4 linked regions of the Homo sapiens genome follow. The protein of the gene in region 1 purifies or fractionates together with the protein of each later gene. This does not show direct contact. Each region holds a gene or a part of one and is shown on either strand. Other genes may lie near its edges. The genes, in order: EHBP1, POF1B, CELSR2 and SERPINA12.

The links.
Region 2: the proteins of EHBP1 (region 1) and POF1B purify together in Homo sapiens (affinity purification with mass spectrometry; one large-scale study listed by BioGRID and IntAct). This does not show direct contact.
Region 3: the proteins of EHBP1 (region 1) and CELSR2 purify together in Homo sapiens (affinity purification with mass spectrometry; one large-scale study listed by BioGRID and IntAct). This does not show direct contact.
Region 4: the proteins of EHBP1 (region 1) and SERPINA12 purify together in Homo sapiens (affinity purification with mass spectrometry; one large-scale study listed by BioGRID and IntAct). This does not show direct contact.

Annotation. Positions count from the first base shown.
Region 1 is NC_000002.12:62,987,592-62,993,928, reverse strand, and holds part of EHBP1 (EH domain-binding protein 1), read right to left. Parts: intron 5,999-6,337; coding exon of another isoform or gene 5,891-5,998; intron 3,214-5,890; coding exon 3,089-3,213; intron 400-3,088; coding exon 261-399; intron 59-260; coding exon 1-58. UniProt on the Homo sapiens protein: May play a role in actin reorganization. Links clathrin-mediated endocytosis to the actin cytoskeleton. May act as Rab effector protein and play a role in vesicle trafficking.
Region 2 is NC_000023.11:85,367,913-85,374,249, forward strand, and holds part of POF1B (protein POF1B), read right to left. Parts: intron 1-6,337. UniProt on the Homo sapiens protein: Plays a key role in the organization of epithelial monolayers by regulating the actin cytoskeleton. May be involved in ovary development.
Region 3 is NC_000001.11:109,257,774-109,264,110, reverse strand, and holds part of CELSR2 (cadherin EGF LAG seven-pass G-type receptor 2 precursor), read right to left. Parts: intron 5,680-6,337; coding exon 5,032-5,679; intron 3,070-5,031; coding exon 2,847-3,069; intron 2,599-2,846; coding exon 2,483-2,598; intron 2,304-2,482; coding exon 2,215-2,303; intron 1,825-2,214; coding exon 1,667-1,824; intron 1,306-1,666; coding exon 1,142-1,305; intron 970-1,141; coding exon 844-969; intron 501-843; coding exon 334-500; intron 34-333; coding exon 1-33. UniProt on the Homo sapiens protein: Receptor that may have an important role in cell/cell signaling during nervous system formation.
Region 4 is NC_000014.9:94,486,779-94,489,624, forward strand, and holds the end of SERPINA12 (serpin A12 precursor), read right to left. Parts: coding exon 2,842-2,846; intron 717-2,841; coding exon 525-716; 3' UTR 501-524; downstream 1-500. UniProt on the Homo sapiens protein: Adipokine that modulates insulin action by specifically inhibiting its target protease KLK7 in white adipose tissues.

The sequences.
Region 1 (6,337 bases):
GCCTTCTCCTCATTTCCTTTCTTTGTATCTTCCTGTATTGATCTCTGCCTTTTCATCTCTTAAAAAAAAAAGAGGAAAGACATGTAAAATTATTGTAAAGCTTGATATTTGTGTATTGAAATGTGAATTTACATTACCAGATTATATACATATATACTATATATATATGCTATATATATATACTATATATATATACTATATATAGATATCTATATATAGTTAAACCATAACATGGAAAAACATTTTAAAAAGTGTTCTACCTGGTCTATTCTCAATATATTGGCTGAAAGACTGAAGTTGAGTTTTTCTGACTGTAGAATCTTTGCTGAACACAACAGGATTTCTAAAACGTTCTGTTGTTTTTTGTAATCGTTCAGTCCGGAGATCTTCTGTGCCACTCTAAACGTAAAACAACACATGGTAAGAGAGTCCTGATCTCATAAACATAAAATTACACATTAGTAAGGCAATTTTTACTGATTTAAGATAACACTGATTTAGAAACTTTTTGCAAGAAAAGGATTTTAAAGCACTTTAAAGAGCTCAACTGCAAGTTCTGTTGCCTGTAATCACAAACTTTGGGACACATGGTTTAACTCTTGATAACTTTGATACGAATGTGTCTTCCACCAGTGATACATATCATTTAAAAGCCATGTTGCCTCCTATTTCCCCCACTATTCTGTGTCATCAGTTTGTACAGCCCCACAGACTTGTATGACAACAAGAACTAGTTTCTAATTTTATGCCCATTGAGATAAACCACTAATGCTGGATGAAGGCTAAAAGGTAGGATTATAATACTACCCTACTGAACTGCATTTCATCAGCTATAACTTTCCAAAGCCAGATTTGTAAGTAAGCCCTTTACAGCTAAGGAAACTACAATTATCTTTTCCGGAGCTTCCTATGTTAATACTGGTAACAAATTCAAATGGTTCTATCAACAAGAAATATCCCAGAAGACTGAACCACTGCAGTGTGTGGAAGCTGCAGATACCGAGGTGCTGTGTACCAAACAAATATTTCATTTTATACCTAATCTTTTATTATTTTTATTAAGTGTTTTGAAAGTAAATAGGGAAAGGCTAAGATGCATGACTAATAGCTAAGCCTGCTGAATGCTGAAACTGGTTATCAAAAGCTACCAAGACTTTGCCCTTCCTCTGCATTGAGACAATCAGTAATGAGGGAGCCCTCCAATGGCCTATTCTCTAGCCTCAAGGAGGCCTGGGATACAGAATCCTCAGGGGAAGGTAACAGTTTATTCTTTTCCACAAACACAGAATGCCTCATTTATAAATGTGTAAACTGCATTTTATTAAAAAAAATTAAAACCCAAGTCAACGCTGAAAGCTTCAAGAGAACAGATGGACTCTATATGTTCTTTATAAACACCATTTTCAAAATCTTAACTAAAAGGAATCATACAAAGGCAAGCTGTTTAAAGCACACCTTTTGTTGGAATAACTTTAAAGACTACTATATAAGAGTGTTTTGGAAAGCAAAACCAATTTTATCTATACAGATAAACCATAATAATGAAAATAACACTATTTTATTTTTTTAAAGTTATCTAATGAATTTATCATTAATATCATGCTTATAATATCCTAGCCATATAGTTATGATAGCAACAGTTTTGGCTTTTATTCTATTTTTTTAAAGAAAAATAGAGTTCTACTGTTATATAACTATCCAATAGTCTAATACTCAAGTCTTTACCAAAATAAACAAACACAGCTAAATTTTTTTAGGCCTGGCAACATGCTAAAATATCAGTGCGATTAGCCAGCAAATCCCATCTTAAGAAACCTTTTTATGACTAGGGACTTCTGCCACTTTACAAATGTATTCCTCTAAACCCACTAATTCAGTTAGCCTTTTCAATCTATTGTATTATTCTTAGGCCAGCTTCATTCTGCATTAAATCCACTGCAGAAAGCTAAATTGAACGCAAAAAATCAGACCCGATCCAGGCTTCCTTTTGTTCAAAGATAGAGACCAAAAGTCCTCTGGTGCTGCCACACACTTTCATCACCAATTTATAGAAACTGACAATATAGGGGAAAAGCAATGAAAGTCATTGTTTTGGGACTTCAAAGCATCTCTGTGTCAGGGGAAGGAAATCCTTTCAGTCAGCAGGGCAGTCCCCATAGTCCGCAGGTGGGTGAAAAGTTATACAGGACTGGAAGTGCCCTAAAGCTACAGAAATACTAATCACTGTGAGGAAAGCAGGGAAACATGTGGGTGGGAATAATATAAACAGTCTAATAATAGTCTTATAATGTGGCATTTTTGACTAAAATGTTACACAAGGTAAGATGCATAATGGCACAAAACACATGCAAGTTATCTTAAACATTTATATTCAATCACATTACCATTTTCAGGTGTGATGATTCTTACAAATAACATACATTTAGTTCATCTATATAGGCAGAAGCTTGAGGATTATTGAAAAATGCGCTAGAATTCTCTTAACAGTATTTGTCTTAGCAAAATATACATACATATAGAACTCAAGAATAGTTTCCATATTGCCTCTATTTTTACTTGAAATAGCAGTTTAAAGTAGTAGTTTCCCTGAAAAATAGTATATGAATACTGATTACCATATTGATATTTACTTATTGGCTATTTAATACAATTTTTTTAATTAATTAATTTTTTTTTTTTTTTTTTAGACAAGGTCTCACCCTGTCTCCGCTGCTGGAGTGCAGTGACATGATCACCACTCACTGCAGCCTTGAACTCCTGGGCTCAGGCAATCCTCCCGCCTCAGCCTCCTGAGTAGCTGGGACTACAGTCATGCACCACCATGCCTGGCTAATTGTTTTACTTTTAGTAGCAAAGTCTCAATATGTTGCCCAGGCTGGTCTTGAACTACTGATTCTCCTGCCTTGGCCTCCCAAAGTGCTGGACTTGCAGGCATGAGCCACCACACCTCACCAGTAAAAATTTCTTATACCCTAATCTTAATATTGGTGAAAAATTAGGTAAAAAATTGTTTTTGGAATTACAAACTCCTGGCAGAAACTAGAAGACACAGATACTAAGCCAAATGTTTTAAACAAGTAAGACTTACTTTCATGTCCTGCTCTGAGCTCTCAGTTACAGCTTTCTGGGCAGCACTGGAGGGTGAATTTGCCACCTGTGGCTGAACTTCTAGGAGCTTCTTCAGCTTCAAGTCCACCAACTTACTGTTTTGTTCTGTTAAATATGCAAATACCATGAATAACTGAGTGAGATGCATTTAGATATGTAGGCTGTCAATTTTATGTGAGCTCAGAAAAGTATTACTATATTTTAAAAGAAAGAAGAAAAGGATATTAGTAGATTAGACACATGAAAAATCCTTTACATATATATATTCCCCCACCAAAATCATTCCCCTTAAAGAATACAGTCAACATATCTAAAGAGAACTTAGTTATACTATAGTTAAATAGTAGCTAATGCTTACCTAAAAACCTATGCCTGTATGTGATGTATACATTTATATAAGCACTGTATGTTATACATAATAAAACAAGCTGTTATAACAAACTAGATATTTAAAAGAAGAGATACATTTCATTTTGAATATTATTTTGTAGTTTTCTTTTAGTATATCAGATTTATAAATATAATGCCATATTAAAACAAATTCTTAACATTATCTCAGATCATCATCATGTACATACTATTAGAATCCAGTGTTTATATATGTACCTATATAACCAGCATTGAAACAGGGTATATGTTTACAAATACCCTCTACTTAGATAGCAGAAATACAATACAGATTATTACATTTTTGGAATGTATTAATGTACATTAATCTTTCATAATACAATAGTTCAAAATGAGTAGAAACACAACTAATTCTTAAATTAATAAAAGGCAACTCCTCAATAAAATGGTCGCAATAGATATGTCCACCATTTGCTGGATGATATTTTTCATAAAGATTAATAACTTTTCTAATTATAAGACTCTTAATAAATGCTATTGTCATTACTTTCATGCAAATTGGTCAGTTTATATTGCAAGGCTTCTCTTTTAAACAATATCTGATGAACTATGGTCAAATCAAGATAAAGATTAAACAATTTATTATTAAAACCTTATGACTTATATACATATGAAAAAAATTTGGGGGGAAAATAAAGCAAGGATAAAAATCATAATATATTCTAAGGGCTTCCAGATTCTAGTTTGCATTCCTATTTCTTATTGCCACAAAATAAACCATAAATCTGAACTGGGAGGCCTGTCTACTTCCATGCCAACACTTAACTGGCATGCTTGAGAGCCGTAAACAATTTATTAGTTAACTCCAAACAGGAAGGCTGAGATGTGTGTTCGTTTTGGAAAACATTAAGTAGGAGGAGAGTTTTTAAAAATGACAAGAGTCAAGCCTGTTAGGATTAAAATTAACCCATCTTTAAAGTATCCCCCAAAGTTGCTACAGCTGAAACTAGAAAATTCTCCCCTTATTTTACCTAAGAAATGGCTATTTTTTCCTGTGTTACTAACCTACTGTAGAATCAGGACATATGCATCACATATTGTTACTGATTTTATGCTTTTATACTTCCATAAATTGAGTATTAAAAAATTAAATCCAGTACTTATGGATGTCCTCCTCAGCATTAAAAAGATGTGATTGGTTTCCGATAAAGCCTTTGGTGGTGGTTATGGTGGGAAGGTGAGTAAGCAACAAAAATGTTTTTTTAAAAAAAAATCAAACCTAACCAAGTTCTGTAGTATTTTAAACAGAAAGAAGTAAAATGTAGTTCTAATTTTGGGTTAAACATTTAAAAGTTTTCCTTAAATATCAGCATTCTTTTGGACTTGCACAATTATAAGTATACTGACTTCTATTTAGCAATAGTATAATTTAACACCCGGCCATGAAGGAGCTACTGACAAAAGGGCATGAGTTTTCTTGAGTGTTCGTTATAGTCAGGAAAACCCTGGTCACCTGTTTATTGAAGTAATAATAGTATTTCCAACAGGGAAAGAAATGGAGCAGATTAGCATTGCAGGTGCATGCCATGGATAGGAAAAAGTATGCTTGCTCTCACTCCCTTTAGCTTTTTACAGGAAAAGATAAATATTAGAGACTTTGCCTCCCTCCTTTGAGTCTAAAGAAATCACCAAAGACTTTTTATTGCCATAAGAATTCAACTCAACAAGCATTTATGGAACCCCTCAGATATACAAAACTTTGGATTGCTACTTGCTGCTGGCTTATAAAGGCAATGCATTTGGAACATTCACCTATTAAAAACCACCAGCAAATATCTTTGTATTTTAAATAAGAACTTACAAAGGTCCATTGCCAAAGCAATTTATTGATATAAGACATAAGGTTAATTTAACAGCAGTCTATATAGTTTTCAAAGTGTCTTATTGTAATCAGTTAAGTATATGTAAAATCATTTACTAGAGTAATATTTAAGTAAGGTAAGCAGAAAATCTGCAAAATAATATTATAACTAAGACTATAATTCTAAACTAAATCAGAAAATCTGATCCCATGGTTTGGATTTACATGTGGAATATATACCTTCTGACATCACACCAAAATATTTAAGCTGAGAAGGGAACCAGCTATTGAAAACCTACAGATTATCTCACATAACATAAAATACAATAGTGAATCTTAGTAACAAGAGAACACAAACTACAATTTGCTATTCCAATGTTATTGCTAATTTTAACATCCAACCTAAAACAAAATAACATAAAATTGATGGAAGGTGGACTAAGCTAAATGGTTTATGAGGCCATAAGATGTAATAAAACTACAAAATTATTATTATTATTGATGAGATAATAAAAATATAACCATAAAGTTTGCCATGCAGCAGGACACAAAACATTTATAATTTGAAATTACCGGGAGTATCAAGGTCATTTTCTAAGTTAGTAAGTTCATCTCCACCTCCTACAACAAAGCCTTCAGGGATCTCCTCGTTAGTATCTATCTCAATATTATCATTTTCATCTGTAGGAACATGTAGCAATAATGTTAGTATATTATTTATATTTTATATCATTCATCCAAAACACTAAAGAAGAAAAACCAGTATTTTAGTATAGTTATTCAAATTCAGGTCTGACACAGATAAGCAAGTTAAGAAATCAGTTTTAAGTCACTCTTTCACTATTGGATTAACATTTATATTTTACATTCCTATGTCAAACATGAATTATCACATCAAAGCAGATGCAAAGGTTTTGACAATTTGCCACACGCTGTCTCTGAATCACTGAGCTCATTGAGTCCCTGTATTTTAAAGTGTAATCTATAAGTAACTCTAACAATGGCACACAAAAATAAAGT
Region 2 (6,337 bases), on another chromosome or scaffold:
GAACTAAATTACTTTGTTGTCTTCTCACATAACCCAATGATAAAAGAGTTTCTAGAGTGCTTTCATAGCAATACATTCTACTTGTACTGTTAGGTTGCATTCTTTTTGTTTCTGCTTCAAGAACTCTGCATTCATATACACCCCAATGTTATTATATGTTTGCAATTAGCAAGATATAATATTTTACAAACAAAACTTTTCTTTCAGTATTTGTTCTATTTCTTTTTTAAAATTCTTATAAATTTAAGGAGTACAAGTGCAGTTTTGTTACATGGATATTTTGCATAGTGGTGAAGTCTGGGCTCTTAGAGTAACCATCAACCGAACAGTGTACATTGTACTCATTAAATAATTTCTCATAAAATGATGTAAAATTTAATAATTATCAAACCAAGAGATAGACATCCCATTCTTCATGATGTGCTTATTTCACGTTGCATGCCTGTATCAGAACATCTTATGCACCCCATAAATATACACATTTACTATGTGCCCAAAATTTTAAAAATAAAATAAAACTTAGAAAAAATAATTCTCAAACCAATATAAGAAACTACCTTTGAAAACTCAACTAAGAGTAATTTTAAGAGTAAATTTTAAAGTACCTTTGAAGAAGGTAGTTTGAAGAGTAAATTTAAGAGTAAATTTCAAACTACCTTTGAAAATGCAACTAAGAGTAATTAATTTTAAATCACTTCAAGCTAACTCTTAATTATGCTTTGTCTATTCTGCTTCTAGTCTAATTTCAGAGTAGGCTCTGTTGTTAAAATAATCTGTAAAAGTGAAAGAATATAATTTTTTAAAATGGTCCAATAAAATGATCAATCTGTCCATCATGCTGGCATTGTTTACATATTTCCTCAAAACCAACAAAACTGCAATCACTTCATTAGTGTGCAAAGAAATGATGGCGTTACTCAATCTCCCCATACCTTACCATAATTTACAATCAATTGGCACGACTCCATTATATCTTCCTACAAAGGTATAAATATTTTTTCTGTAGAACAAGGGAACTATTAAAAATCAGAATCATTAATTTACAAGGGAAACACTGACAGACTCATACAGAACTATAGCTATAATGTAGGTGTTACATGTATTCTTAAAACAGGACTATGCATTTACTCAAACTGCCAAATGTTCTGAATTCTTTCTTGTTGTTGCTGTTGTTGAACTTGTAACATTTTCATCCTCCACCACCCTTTATATCAACAGCAATACTGCAGGCTCAGTATTTCTAGGAATCTTTTGCATATATTCTCAGATTTTCTGCTAATAATTGAGAAGACTTGCTCAGACAAATGCAGAGAATTACAGATTATAGACAAAACAGGTACACATTATCCAGTTTAGGAAAATGGTTATAAATACAACCATGTGCAGGCAGGTTTGGCCCACAGACCCAAGAGGAGCAGATTCAAGAAGACAAGAAAAAAGAGGGGTGCTCTTTAGTTATGGAATAACACATGAACACATTCTTAATATAAACATTTATATAGATAAGGTTAAAGACCTTCTCTTGACCATCTTTCCTCCATTCACTTACCCAGAAGTGACTATTGTTGTCAGTTAAGATGTCTTTACATATATACCTATGTATAAATAGTAATATTATTGCTTTCATTGTTCTACAACTTAAACCAAACAGTATCTCTTGTATTATGTACTAGATACATGTTTTAACTCATTATTTTCAATTAATAGTATTCCAAAATGCTTGCTTTATAGCTTGTTTTTATGTTTTCCTGCTGATTAACATTTATATTGTTTCCAGGTTTCCACTGTGCTGCAATGAGCATCCTTGTGCAACATGTTTCTTTAGAATCCCACACAGAATTGGGATTGCTGGGGCATGGAGTATGTGTGTTATTCATTTGAACAGATACTGCCCAACTAATTTCCCAAATTTGACTATGATAATTATACATCCACCAGCAGTGTGTGAAGGTATTCATGTCTAGAGGATGTTTGGTCTGTTTAGGCTGGGGCTAATAATATTATACTAGTATCATTCTGAGAAGACAACTATACACATGGTTAGTATCTGGTAGCTGTTGTAGAAATGATAGCTCTGTCCTTCTTGTAACCAATTCAAATATGATGGCATTAGCAAATGAAACATAGCAAATCTTACTAGCCAACTGGACTAGCTTTTAAGATACAAAAGCGTACTAAGAAGTTTTATAAATCTGCAGAAATTTAAACAAATAGGAATACACACACATCACACATCACAGATAAAGACATTTATTTATGCTAGTATAAGCAGTATTACTTTATTCAGATGTTAAGATAATAGATGTTTAAATGGCAAACAGTTGTATTTGAGCAAAGACTAGTCTTGCCCTAAAATGAAGGAATTCTTTAATCTTCTTATATGTGGAAAGCTGGAACATTAAGTCCATAGATTATAATGTACTCAATTATTTTTAGCCCTACTTCAGCCTTCATTATTAAAATTGATCATCTAGACAAATGTGGCTTTCCCACGCAACCCTCATGGAAACATTAGAGAACAAATATAATAGGTTCAAAAATTACAACATTAAGATGTAGCTTAATATGAGTCAAAGATATTTAGACATATGGTGTTGAACAGCATGAATTTAAATTGCATCAGTATGGATTTAGGCTGATCATAAGGGGGAAAACCTCTCTGAAAATAGGTTTATTAATTCCAGAAATACTTGCTAAAGAAAACCCCTTTTCCCTGGAAGTCTACAAAATTAAGTAAGATGGTGTGAGTAAATGTCCAGAATGAACAAAACCTTGATGTTGAAAGGTACTTTCAATGGCATCAAGATCTAGGCAAGATTGCAGCAAGTCATCCCATAAATAGCCATTGACCATTCCATAGAAAGTGATCCAAAATATTTTTGAAAGAATGAATGAAAAGGAGATCTTAGTTTTAAAAGCACTCCAGGAATAACAATCCAAATCTCCCTCTTAATAACCTGTATCAGTCAGTGTTTAATTTTGTTACTCATCTGTGTATAGCTTACCTAAATCCTTCATGTTGAAACTATTAAATTCAATGAACAGTCAATGTTTTTGTTTTTATGCCTTTTGTGCCACAGCCCCACATTCCTGATGACCAAATAATTGAAGGCGATAATGGGGTGGTGGTGGTTATCATGACATAGTGGAAAAAGTGCTAGACTTGGAGTCAGCAGACCTGGATTTTATTCCCATTTATACTACTAGCCACTTTTGTAATACTGGTCAACTCATGTTCTCTCTCTGAGATTTGTTTCCTCATGTGAGAAATGAGAAATGGGATATGGGTGTGGGCGAGTGTGGATTAGAGGATCTTTAAGTTTGTTTCTGACGTTCTGTGAATATAAGAGACCATTCCCAACTTATTTTTCCATACAAACAAAACAATTTCAAATTTTTTAAACTTGTCAGTATTGTTTTCCTTTTGATGATGATTATAATGATGACTAACACCTATTAATAGCTTTCTGTGCCAAACATGTTACATAGATCATTCTCTTTAACACTCAAAATAACCCCATAAAGAAGATACTATTATAACCCCATTACATAAACAAGTGAAGTTAGACAGAGGTAGGATAGGTAACCAGATGGAGATTACACAGCTAATGCTAAGGTGCTGGAATTCCAACTCAGCATGACTCCAGAACTCATGCTCTTAATCACCATATTTTGCCACGTTTATTGCTTGCTTCATTATATTTTCTGTTTTTCAAGTTGTGTAACCTAATTATATGGTTAAGTTTGACTAGTCCTTATAACAGAAGGTCAAATACTGGGACTTTTAAAATTATTCAGTGTCAAAAGCAACTTTGGAGGCCTGAAAATAAGACACCCACCCACAAGTAGCTGTGTGAGAGAACAGCCTTGATTAGATAATTTAAGTTTCCATAAACTCAATAGAATTTGTAAAACGCGTGGTACATTTACAGAGTGTACTCACAAGCCTCTAAAACTCAATAAACCATTGAATTTTTGTTTAATGCTCATATCATCTAATCTCTTCAATTTTGCAGGAAGACCTTACTTTTTCTGATAAAATATTCAGCATTTTGTTGAGTCGTTTATTCCTGTGGGTCAGACTTGCTATATACACAAACATTATACTTTATTGGCAACTTTAAGTAGAGTCTGGTGAAAAAGAATTTGGGGCCGGGCGTGGTGGCTCACGCCTGTAATCCCAGCACTTTGGGAGGCTGAGGTGGGCGGATCACGAGGTCAGGAAATCGAGACCATCCTGGCTAACATGGTGAAAACCCGTCTCTACTAAAAATACAAAAAAATAGCCGGGTGTGGTGGCGGGCGCCTATATTCCCAGCTACTCAGGAGGCTGAGGCAGGAGAATGGCGTGAACCTGGGAGGCAGAGCTTGCCGTGAGCCGAGATCGTGCCACTGTGCTCCAGGCTGGGCGACAGAGCGAGACTCTGTCTCAAAAAAAAAAAAAAAAGAAATGAAAAAGAATTTGGTTTATAATTATGTGGGCTTGGGGATAATTTCATTACATCACTTGAGATAATTGTCCATACCTTTGTACACACTAAATCTGAGCTAGGAAACTCTGGTTTCCCTAGAGAATTCATTATTCATAAAAGTATATCTTATTTCCACCTATTTGTTAAAAAAGCTGTTTTCAGGGGAACATCACACACAGGGGCCTGTCAGAAGATGGGGACCTAGGGGACGGATAACATTAGGAGAAATACCTAATGTAGGTGACGGGTTGATGGGTGCAGCAAACCACCATTGCCCGTTTATACCTATGTAACAAAACTGCCCTTTCTGCACATGTACCCCAGAACTTAAAGTATATATATATATAAATATATTTTATTCATATTTATATATATTATATTATATATACTATATATATATATACTTTAAGTTCTGGGGTACATGTGCAGAAAGGGCAGTTTTATATATAAGCTGTTTTCAGAGTTAAATCAGATGATGTGCAAATGGCCTAAATGTCTCAGTTATTTACTTTAGTGAAAATGCTTTTGAGTAGCTCAGTGCAGTAAAGAAAGAAGGGAAGGCAGAAGCTCAAAAGGTGTTATTCTCCTTTGAAAGAAAGAAAACCTTAAAAACTTAATATATACCCTGAATTCTAGGATTATTTCTGAGCAAGACCTTGAAAACTAGAGGGAAAACTATTTTTGTCCTCTAATGTATTTTTGATATTTTCCATTCTGATAATGGAACATTAGAATGGGAAAATATACAGTAAGGGTAATCATCAAATGTTTTGTTGAAATAAAAAATGTGAACTAATTTAAACTGAAATCATGAATATCGAAAGTTAATTAAGGGAGATAGCTGATGTAATGAAAATATCAGGAGCTGGTTTTTAAACTCAGGGCATTCACTAACCAGCTGTACTAAATAGGCAAGTTATTTTGAGCTATTCGAGTCTCAATTTCCTTATTTGTTTAACAGATAAATAATACACAATGAATATTGTCTTTATTTGTACATCGTACAATTTGTACAATAAACATAATAATGCATGTTTTATCTAATTGTTGAGGTTCTATCAAGTTGTTTACTAGATAATCATATACATGGAAGAGTTGTGAAAAACAAAAAACCCATGTATTAATATGAAATATTATTTTCACTGGATTGATTATATATGTGACTAAGTTACTAACTTGCAGTTTCTTTACTACTTATTGTGTAGTGGCATTGAAAGAGATACAAATGATGTTAGAATATAATCTCTACCCTCTCATGGTTATAATCATGTAGGGCATAAACACTATGAGTACAAATAGGAATTAAGTAGACTATCATAAGACCTATAAGAAGCTCACTAGGTAAGTTTTGAGGGCTAAGAGATAACTTCAACCTGGGACAATCAGAGGATCAGAAGGTTACACTTGAGGAAAGGCTTGAAAAATTTGTATAATTTCAGGGTGTCTAGATTGGTGAGGGTGAGGAGCAGGAGCAGTTCAGATGTAAGAGCAATGGAGTGAAAGACATAGCTGTGGAAAATTGGGGACTTTATTTAGAGAACAATCATTTACACTTAGCTAAAACATAGGACACCAGAAGGAGAGTTCCAGGAAGTTCCACAGGAGCCCTAACATGGAGGGCCTTGAAAGTCAGACTAAGCAATTTATAGATACTTAGTGTCATTGAAGGTTTTTGCAGCAGAGGAGTGATATGGGATGTGTATAGGGAATTTAAGCAACTTTTCTAGAGAACATATTCTTAGGTGTAATTAAAGTTGTGGAGATTTTAAAATTAATATTCCTAGGGACTCCAACTAGACTGCTTCATAGTTCTATTCTGCCAAAGTTCACCTCATGATTGCATATTTATTTACAGCTCTTCCTGA
Region 3 (6,337 bases), on another chromosome or scaffold:
CTCCACGCTCAGCATCACGTGGCCCTCTCGTAGCTGACACCAGGAGGAAAGAAAACAGGGTCAGCAGACGGCCTTAATCACTGTTCTCCAGCTCACAGTTCCCCTTTCTGGACCATCAAACCCATCCCGCTGCCCAGCTGAGGCCATAGAGAGGAAAGCGTATTTATTTCCCTCAGGCCCAACAGGTGGCAGCATTGACCTTCCCAACGGATCCAGCGGCCTCTATATGTCCCCACCCCTGCCCAGGACCTGCCCAGCCACTTCTGTCCAGCCGCCTAGAGGCTACCAGGGCCCTATGGCCAGGCCAGGGCCAGCCGCCCTTCCATGCATCACCTGTAGGGTGATGGTGCTGCGCCCCCTGGTGATGGCCTGCAGCAGGACACCGTCGGCCTGGCGCGTGCGGAACATGAGGCTGAGGTACCAGGGTTGGGAGATGGGCAGCGAGAGGCCATGCCAGGCCACCAGGCTGCTGCCCAGGAAGTGCTGTGGATTGGCCATTTCTGGGGAGGCAGGAAAAGGCAGACTGTGACGGGTGGAGCCTCAGAGGGCCCTGGGGCTGTGATGCTCAGCGGTGGCGGCTGCACGGGAGGCAGAGCCCACTCCCCTCATCAGCCCCGCCCTCCAAAGTGCGTACCTGCCCTGGGACCGCCCCACGCTGTGCCCAGGCCTGCCTCTGACTGGCCCCTTTGTCTCCTGTGTTGCCCTTTCAGGGCTCTGCCCAGACACGCTTTTCCACCCACAGCCCCGCTCAGCAGAGCCCTGCCCAGTGCCTGCCCCAACCCTGCCAGTTCCCAGACTGTTGATGGCACCCAGGCTGTGGCCTCTAACAGCCGCCCCTCCTACCCTGGGCGCAGCTCTTGCCCCCAAAGCCCAGGGGGCACTCGCAGCTGAACGCGTCCCACTGGTTCACGCAAGTGCCCCCATTGTGGCAAGTGTTGCTGTCACACACGTTCTTCTTGGCAGGGCAGCCTGGAATGGAGAGAAGGCAGCTCAGTGGACCTGAGCTGGGGCTCTAAAGAGAAAGCCTGTGGCAGCAGTTAGAGAGGCCTCTGAGACCCTCCATTCTGGCATCCTCACACCAGGCACAGCCCCTCCTCTCAGCACTGGGATCCCAGCCTGGCTCCACCCCGGGCCCCCATACCAGGCACGGTGCCATTGTTGGCAATGAAGTCAGCCATGTCTATGTGCCGGCTGTCCACCTGCAGGTTCCGCATGCAGCCCACGAACTGCCGCATTCGGACTGGGAAGCTCTCGGGCAGGTCAGGCACCCCGCCTAGTAGCAGGGGCCCCGTCAGATCCAGAGACCTGGGGGAGCAAAGATGGTGGCGGCACAAGGGAGGGCTGGGAGCTTCTGGTCCTCCGCTCGCTCTGCCGCCAGGCCAGAGACACGAACGGCGTAGGCAGGTGTCCAAGAGGCCCTGCAGAGCAGTGCTCAGGAAGGGCGTCACCCCTACCTGGAACTGTTCTTGTCGAACACTCAGCCCCCTCCCCAGACTGCCCCACAGGGCCTTGCTCTGATTCCCCAGTCTTGACCCCATCCCCAGGGCTGAGCAGGGGCTAAGAGAGGCAAAGGGAGAGAGACCCCAAAAGCCCACCCTCTCCACCTTCCCTCCCTGCCTGGCCCTGCCCTCACTTCACCCCATCCCTGGCCCTTTCCCCTGCTCACTTCTTGCTGCCACCCTGGGTGCCCTGGGCAGCACAGGAGTAGTTGCCCAGGACAGATCCGAAGCGCAAGGCCACTCCTGTGTCACAGCCATCCACGGTCACCACAGCCACCTTCTGCTCTGATGGGCCCTGTGGGAGCCCTGTCTGACCCAACAGTGGCTGTGGACAGGAAAGAGCAGAGAAGGGGGACACTGAGTACAGAGCCCACTAGGTTCATGGCCAGCACACACTGGGTGCCTCTGTGTGCACCCACATGCCCAGACACACGTACACACATGCATATACACACACGTGTGCTCACGTGGTTTATGCATGTAACTACCTTCCTCAGTGTCCAAGTTTGCGGCTGCCTAGTGGAACAGAGAGCATCGAGCAGTGCCCAGTGGGGTGGGAATGCCCAGCAAGGTGGCACCTTCCCAGCCGCTCCCTTCCTCTCAGCCAGAAATGCCCTGACCAGCCCACCCAAGCCTGGAGGCAATGCCACTCAGGGCTGGGTAAGCACCTGAGGCAAGAACAGAACCCCCAACCCTCTGTGCCCTCCACACCCACCTTATTGTAGTATTTCAGCTGCACCGTATGCCACTGGCCATCACTGACTCCTCCGGGCACGAATGGGGACACCGTGGTGGTTGACTCCCCTGGGGAAAGGACCAGGTGAGCTGGAATGCCTGACGAGGGCTAGGAATGGCAGGGTTTGGGGTGCCAGTGGCTGGGGCTGGGCCCAGATTTGGCTGATAGAGTATGTGGCTTGGGGTCAGGGGCTGGAAGACTTGGGGCCTTTGGAAGATGGGCAAGGATGGGGGGCAACTGTGATCACCTGCAGAGAAGGTGAGCTGGACCTGCTCCTGGATCACCTCGAGGGCCACAAAGTCATGCTTCTCATTGAAACGCCCATTGTACAACAGCAACCCGTCGCGCTCCTTTGTGGCAAACCTGAACAGGAGTTGGGGATGGGGGCAGGGAATGGGGTACCCACCTGGATGCCAGCACCCCCGCCACCTAACCAGCGCAGGGGAGGGAGATCTGCTGGCAGAACCACAGGCAACTCCAAGAGCAGACCTGGCTCTGCCGGCAGCCTGCTCCACGCTTTCACTGCCTGACCTCTTACTTCAACCACAGAACAGGAGGCACCTCAGATGCCCACCAGGCCCACTCCCCACCCCCAGTGCCCAGCCACTCACGAGAGGGCCAGGGTGAAGTGGAAACGCTGGCGCAGGCCGCGAAAGGTGATGAAGGAGTGGGCGGGGAAGCTGCGCGTGGTCACCTGGCAGTAGGGCTTCTCGAAGTCTCCAGATGGGCAATCGCACTTGAAACCGCCCACCAGCAGGTTGACACAGGTGCCCCCATTCTTGCAGACACCCGGGGTGCAACGGCCTGAGCGAGCACTCACCTCACAGTGCTCACCTGGACAAGAGGAAAGGCAGGTGAGTACCAAGTACCTGAGGACAGGAGGGGAACTGAGACCCCCCACAACCCAGTGATAGCTCCCATGGCCTCCCGTGACCCTCGTAATACTCCCCAAACCTCCCAGGCATCCCCACTTCCTCTCGTGTGCCATCTTCTCTGAGACCTATGGTCCCCAGCCCTTCATGGGCACCCTGTTTGGCTCACTGAGCCGCTCTCGCCACAGCTCCACGCACTGCTCCCCTGCAAGTTCCTCGGAGTCCCCAGCACCTTCCCTACCCCATTTGGGTTTCATAAGCACAGGCCTGCTGGGACACTTGGTTGTAAGGCCCGGATCCCGGGAGCCTTCGATGTCACACTACCAAGCACACCTGGGGGTGTCCTGGCCCCCAAGAGGGTAAATGTGCACAAGCAGATGGGCCTGCAGGACAGCGGGAGGGCTGGGAGCCTCCCTCCTCCCTCCTTCCCACTGGTGCTTTTGTCCCTCTCAGGCACTGAGATCAGTTTCCCTCCCTGGGGATGGGACCAGGCTTCCACTTAGATTTGTCTGGGTTATGGAAGAGTATGAGAGAGAAGCTGGGGAGCCCCCAGGAATGGGGCAGAGGACTCCCACCTTGAGCCCTGCGGTCCAGACTAAGGACCTCTGTGCACCTGGGACATGCTGAGAGTGGGAAACTGAGCCCTGAGAGCAGACAAGAATTCAACAGAGGAGCTGAAAACTCCAACATCAGATGGGAAAATCCACCCTTCTCTCCCTCCCCATTCCCAGATTCTAGAGATAGGTTCTCAGCTCCTGTGCCTAGTGACTGGCTCTTGTTTCCATGGAAACTGTTGTTCGCCTGCTCTAACCCCCCCCCTCCCAACCCCCCCCACCATCCTCCTGGACAAAGACTTCTCTCCCCTCCCCCAAGCCCGTCCCTCCCCTTCCCCCCACCCCTAGCAGCAGCAGAGAGAAGTCAAGTCTGGCAAGTTCTGGGCAGGAAGATGCAGCGGGGAAGGAGTGGGGCCTGCCTATGGCTGCTGGCAGAGCCAGTGGGCATGGCCCTGGAGGACAAGGAGCAGGGCCTGGGCATCTAGGAAGGAAAGGCCCACAGGGAAGGGGAGCAGGGGGTGTCCTGAGAAGACACAGGAGCCTGAAGGGAGGGGTCAGGAGCATAGAGCAGAGACAGTGAGCATCCCAGGGAGCAGGATGTGTAAAGACCTTGGCTGACAGGCCAACAGGGAAGCCGCCTAGCCAGGATCCTCTTTTACCAGCAGCTGGGCGGAGGCGGAGCCATTCTGCCCAGGCCCATACAGGTGCAATGGTTTTCTGGAGCACCCCATCTCAGAACTCAACCCCCTCCAGTTCCCCCAGCTCTTCTGTGTCTTCCCCTTAATGCCTGGGGAGAAAAGTACTTGCTGCAGCTCAGAAAAGGAACTCGCTCAGTGGGGGAGAGACCAGGTTCTAGGCCCAGCCTCACCTCTAAACCGGGTGTGATGAGACCAGGAGCAAGTCACCCAATCTCAGCGTTCCCTTAAATCAAGGCCAACACCTTCCATGCCACCAGCTGTTTCCAAGTATCAAATTAATTACATTAATCCTCACAACCAACTTATGACCTAAGTACGGTCATTATCTCCATTTCAAATAACCGAGGGCCAGAAAGGTTAAGTAACTTGTTCAAGGTCACACAGCTACTAGCGGCAAAGCTGATACACGAACACAGGCCGACTGGCTCTGGAGCCAGCTCTGCCCACAATGGCACTGCCTGTGTGTCCTGTGCACAGCAGGGAGAAGCACTCCTTGCACTGCCTTCCTCAGTGGGGTGCTGTCAGGGAGCAGGCCGGATTTATGACCTCTCAGTGTAGCTGCACCTCACTCGGGAAGAGAATGAGGCAGCCGCCAGCATTTGTCCTGATTTGTGCCTGCACCACACAGTCAGCCTTCCAGGGCTGGCCCATGAGTCCCCTCCCTTGGCTCACCCGTGTAGCCATCACGACAGAGGCAGGTGTAGCCGCCCTCGCGGCTGCGGCAGCGCCCGTGGGGGCCACAGGGCCGCGAGTAGCAGAGGTCCACCTCGGTCTCGCAGTAGTCACCCGTGAAGCCGGGCGGGCAGCGGCAGCGCAGCCCTCCGACGGGGTGGATGGGCCGGAAGAGCACGGAGGAGGAGGCGATGAAGGGCGCGGAGGAGTCGAAGCGCAGCACCGACACGCAGCGCATGTAGTTCTCGCAGGGCTCCCGCAGGCAGATGTTGTCGTCGAAGGGCAGCACGCGCTGTGCCGAGATGGCCGTCAGCAGGCTGCGGTTGAGGTATAGGCGCTCCTGCAGGTCCTCAGAGGGCAGGAAGGGCGGCCCGCCCCCGGGCCCTGGCGGCTGGCCCACCGACAGGCTCACGTTGAGGATGTGGCCCCCGGGGGCGTCGGTGTCCCGCTGTACGTTGAAGACCACCACGTGGTCCGGTGGCGTGGCCAGCGTGGCGGCCACCGCCTGGATGAAGAGGCCTAGCAGTGGTGACAGGAAGCGCTCGGGTGACATGTCCTCCAGGCGCAGCGTGATGCTGTGGGTGAGCATCTCATCGGTGATGATGGTCACACGCAGCGCGCACTGGGCGGTCACGCTGTGTACGCCGTCTGTGGAGAGGGACACAGTCAGGACCCAGCCTGGGGCTGCAATTCAGCCTGCATATTCCTGCACCACCCACCAAGAAAGGCTCTCCTTTCCAACTGGCATAAGGGTGCTGAGCCAGGTATGTCACGTGTGGGCCAATCACTCCTTCAGGGCTCAGGGGATGAGATTTGCAGTTCTCTTTGCATCCTTTCCCAAAACCTTCTGTCGCTGATGCACGGCACACCTCTTAATGTTTGTGCACCTTTCCCTGCCCAAGCCACCGCTCCTGCTCCCTTCCCCCAGAGTCTGTGCTGCCTGCGCGGGAACCCTATGTTGTCTTTTTCATACTTTTCTACAGGGCCCAGAGCATCCTGAGACCCACAAAAATCATCCCCCTGCCCCCTCAGCCTCTACACCTCAACACCACGATAATCGCAACCATGGCTGTGTTCCCCACTCCCCCACAGCAGCAGGGAGTTGGCGGGGGTGGGGGGGAGTGGGTAAACTGGGTCAGTGGGCCACCTAGTCCCCCTCCCACTGAGCCCCATGGCTGCTTGGGCGCGCAGACCTGCTATCCCCATGGCAACATCCAACACAAAGCATTCTTCCCGCCCAACTCTCTGGGCTGCTGTGGGTAGCCTGGGGGGCCCCACCCCAGGAAATCCAGCTGAGCCACGTTAA
Region 4 (2,846 bases), on another chromosome or scaffold:
GGACCGACTTTGTTAAAGCACTGAACTAGCTTCCTTGGAGCCCCAAAGGGAGGGGCGGGACCTTCACTTCAGAAATAAGAAGACAGACTCAGAGAGGGTTTGTGGCTTTCCCAAAGATACCTCATTCCAGGATTTGAACCCCAGTCTCTCACTCGAGACCCCAGGTACTTGCTGTGGCCCATACCTTCCCCAAATTATCCACCAACAGCCAGTCAACCTGGGGCAGGGCTGTGGGGGAGAAACATTTGTTTACTAAATCACAGAGTCCCTCTGCCCGCTGGAGGGGAGAGGAGAATGCCACCAAGTGGGCGGGGGTGGGGCATTGCATCCCAGCATTTGAATGGGCAGGGAGGAAATGGGGCACAGGACTTCTAGAACTTGCAGTTTTGCTCATTCGGGCTGTCTAGGGAGGTGGTGACAGGGAGAGACTAAACTGAAATGTGCCTGTGACTTCCATCTCAGGAAGATGGAACATGTTCAACCCCAAGCCATGTTCGGGGTCTGTGGCAAGCAGGAATTCTCCTTTATTTTCCAATAGGGTTAACAATCTTTCCCAGGAAGAGCACGGAAGGTATTTTCTCGCTGTAAATCAGCAGCAGATAGGGTTTGTCTATCTTGACGACGAGTGGTGTCTCCATGGGCAGAGTCTGTGCTCCGGTGCCAGCGGCCCCTTCCGTACCCCTCTCATCCATCTTCAGCTCAGCCTTGTGCACAGCCTACGGAAGCCAAGGGCAAAGTCAAGGTCTGCCAAGCTCCTTGGCGACCACAGTGGGCCGGAGGCCCAGAGAGGATCAGAGAGGAAGACCACTTGGCCCAAGCCATCCAGCACAGCAGTAACTTGGTTTACTCCAGGGTTCCTGGCTCTTTCGCCATTAATGCTGGAGAATATTCGACAAGCAGATGCCGTGTGAAGGAAAAGATGGTGCAGGGGGAGCATCAGTTACGGGAGTCGGTGGGGGGAGAGATGGAGTGGGGTTTGCTTCTCTTTCTCATGGGTTACAGGGAAGCATCAACCATAGCCGTGGCAGAAAGGTCTACTGGGCTGTAGCTGGGTGAAAGTGAGGTGGTGGTACCCCCACCCTGAAGCCTCCAGCACCTCCTTTCATCCACCTGGTGGATGGTTAAGAGGGAGAAGGATTCTGGATTAGCTCTTTGAGATGACTTGCATCCCAAATCCACTCCAAAGGCATCAACGTCTGTAAACAGGTGATCAGTACTGGGAAACTAACGGGCATGTGTGAAATCCTGGCACATTTCTTGCTAGCCTACAAAATTCTCACAATTTTACTTGCAGAAAACAGGACAGTATCCTGTGTTACAATCACAGCTATCAGCAAACGTAACTACAGAAAGAAATGAGCCATTAAACTCAACAAGACCTTCAGAGCTGGTGTTAAATGTTTGTGGGAAGTCTGTGGCAGGAAAGCTCAAAAGTGAGAAAATTCTAGTAACTATGTTTCTTATGTCAACGTGAAAAATACAGTGGAATCTGTGCCATCTGATTCAGAGCAGCGGGCTCAGCTTGGCAAGCTGGATCCTTCCCAGACTGGCTTGAACCTCCCACTTTATCTCCACTAAGCACCCAATCCCCACCACCCACTACTCCATGATATCCAAAAACCCCCAGCCTTGGCCACACTGCTGCACCCATCCCCGCACCCATCTCTGCTTGTTGAAATCTTTCCCCTCCTTCAATGCCTTTTTAACCCCAAAGTAGGGTTGCCAGGTGAAATACAGGACATCCACTGAAATTTGAATTCAAGATAAACAATGAATATGTTTTAGTGTAAGTGTGTCCCGTGAAATATTCTGAACATACTGGCACTAAAAATATTATTCATCATTTATCTAAAATTCAAATTTAATTGGGTATCCTGTATGAAATCTGCTAAATCCGGTGACTCTACCTATATGGTGCTCTCTTCTTGCCCCAGACAGTCAGGTGCTCACCTTTGCCAGGGGCCACAGGCCCCTTTGCTTGGTCATCTCTTCCTATGCAGCATATGCTTATGCCAACTCATATGAAACATGTGGCCTTGGGCGCGGTGGCTCACGCCTGTAATCCCAGCACTTTGGGAGGCCAAGGTGGGTGGATGACCTGAGGTCAGGAGTTTGAGACCAGCCTGGCCAACATGGTGAAACCCTGTCTCTACTAAAAATACAAAAAAATTAGCCGGGCATGGTGGCGGGCGCCTGTAATCCCAGCTACTCGGGAGGCTGAGGCAGGAGAATTGCTTGAACCTGGGAGGTGGAGGTTGCAGTGAGCTGAGATCGCACCACTGTACTCCAGCCTGGGTGACAGTGCAAGACTCCTTCAAAAAACAAAATAAAAGAAAGAAAGGAAGGAAGGAAGGAAGAGAGAGAGAGAGAGAGAAAGAAAGAAAGAAAGAAAAAAAGAGAGAGAGAGACAGAGAAAGAAAAAGAAAGAAAGAGAGAAAGAGAGAGAGAAAGAGGAAAGAAAGAGAGAGAGAAAGAGAGAAAGAAAGAGAAAGAAAGAAAGAAAAGAAAGAAAGAAAGACGGATGTGGCCTTTGAGAGAGGGTCTGGGTTAGACCTAGACCAGTTCTAGGCCTGATAACTGTTCCAGGCCTTGATCAACGTTTGCTACATTGAATTGATTTCCAAAATAGCAGCAGTTTTAAAGACTGGAAGCATGAGGCTGGGGGAGGTTATGTGGTTTGCCCAGGATCACGGGGTTGGTAAGGGGCACAGCTGCATTCATGCCCGCCCCGACTGGTGGGTGGAGTCTCGGCTCTGACAGCCACTGTGACCCTGGCTCTGGCCCCGGCTGGGGGAAGGCCCCTGTGCTGCAGGGAGTGGAGTCCAGGCTAGGCAGGCTTACCTCGC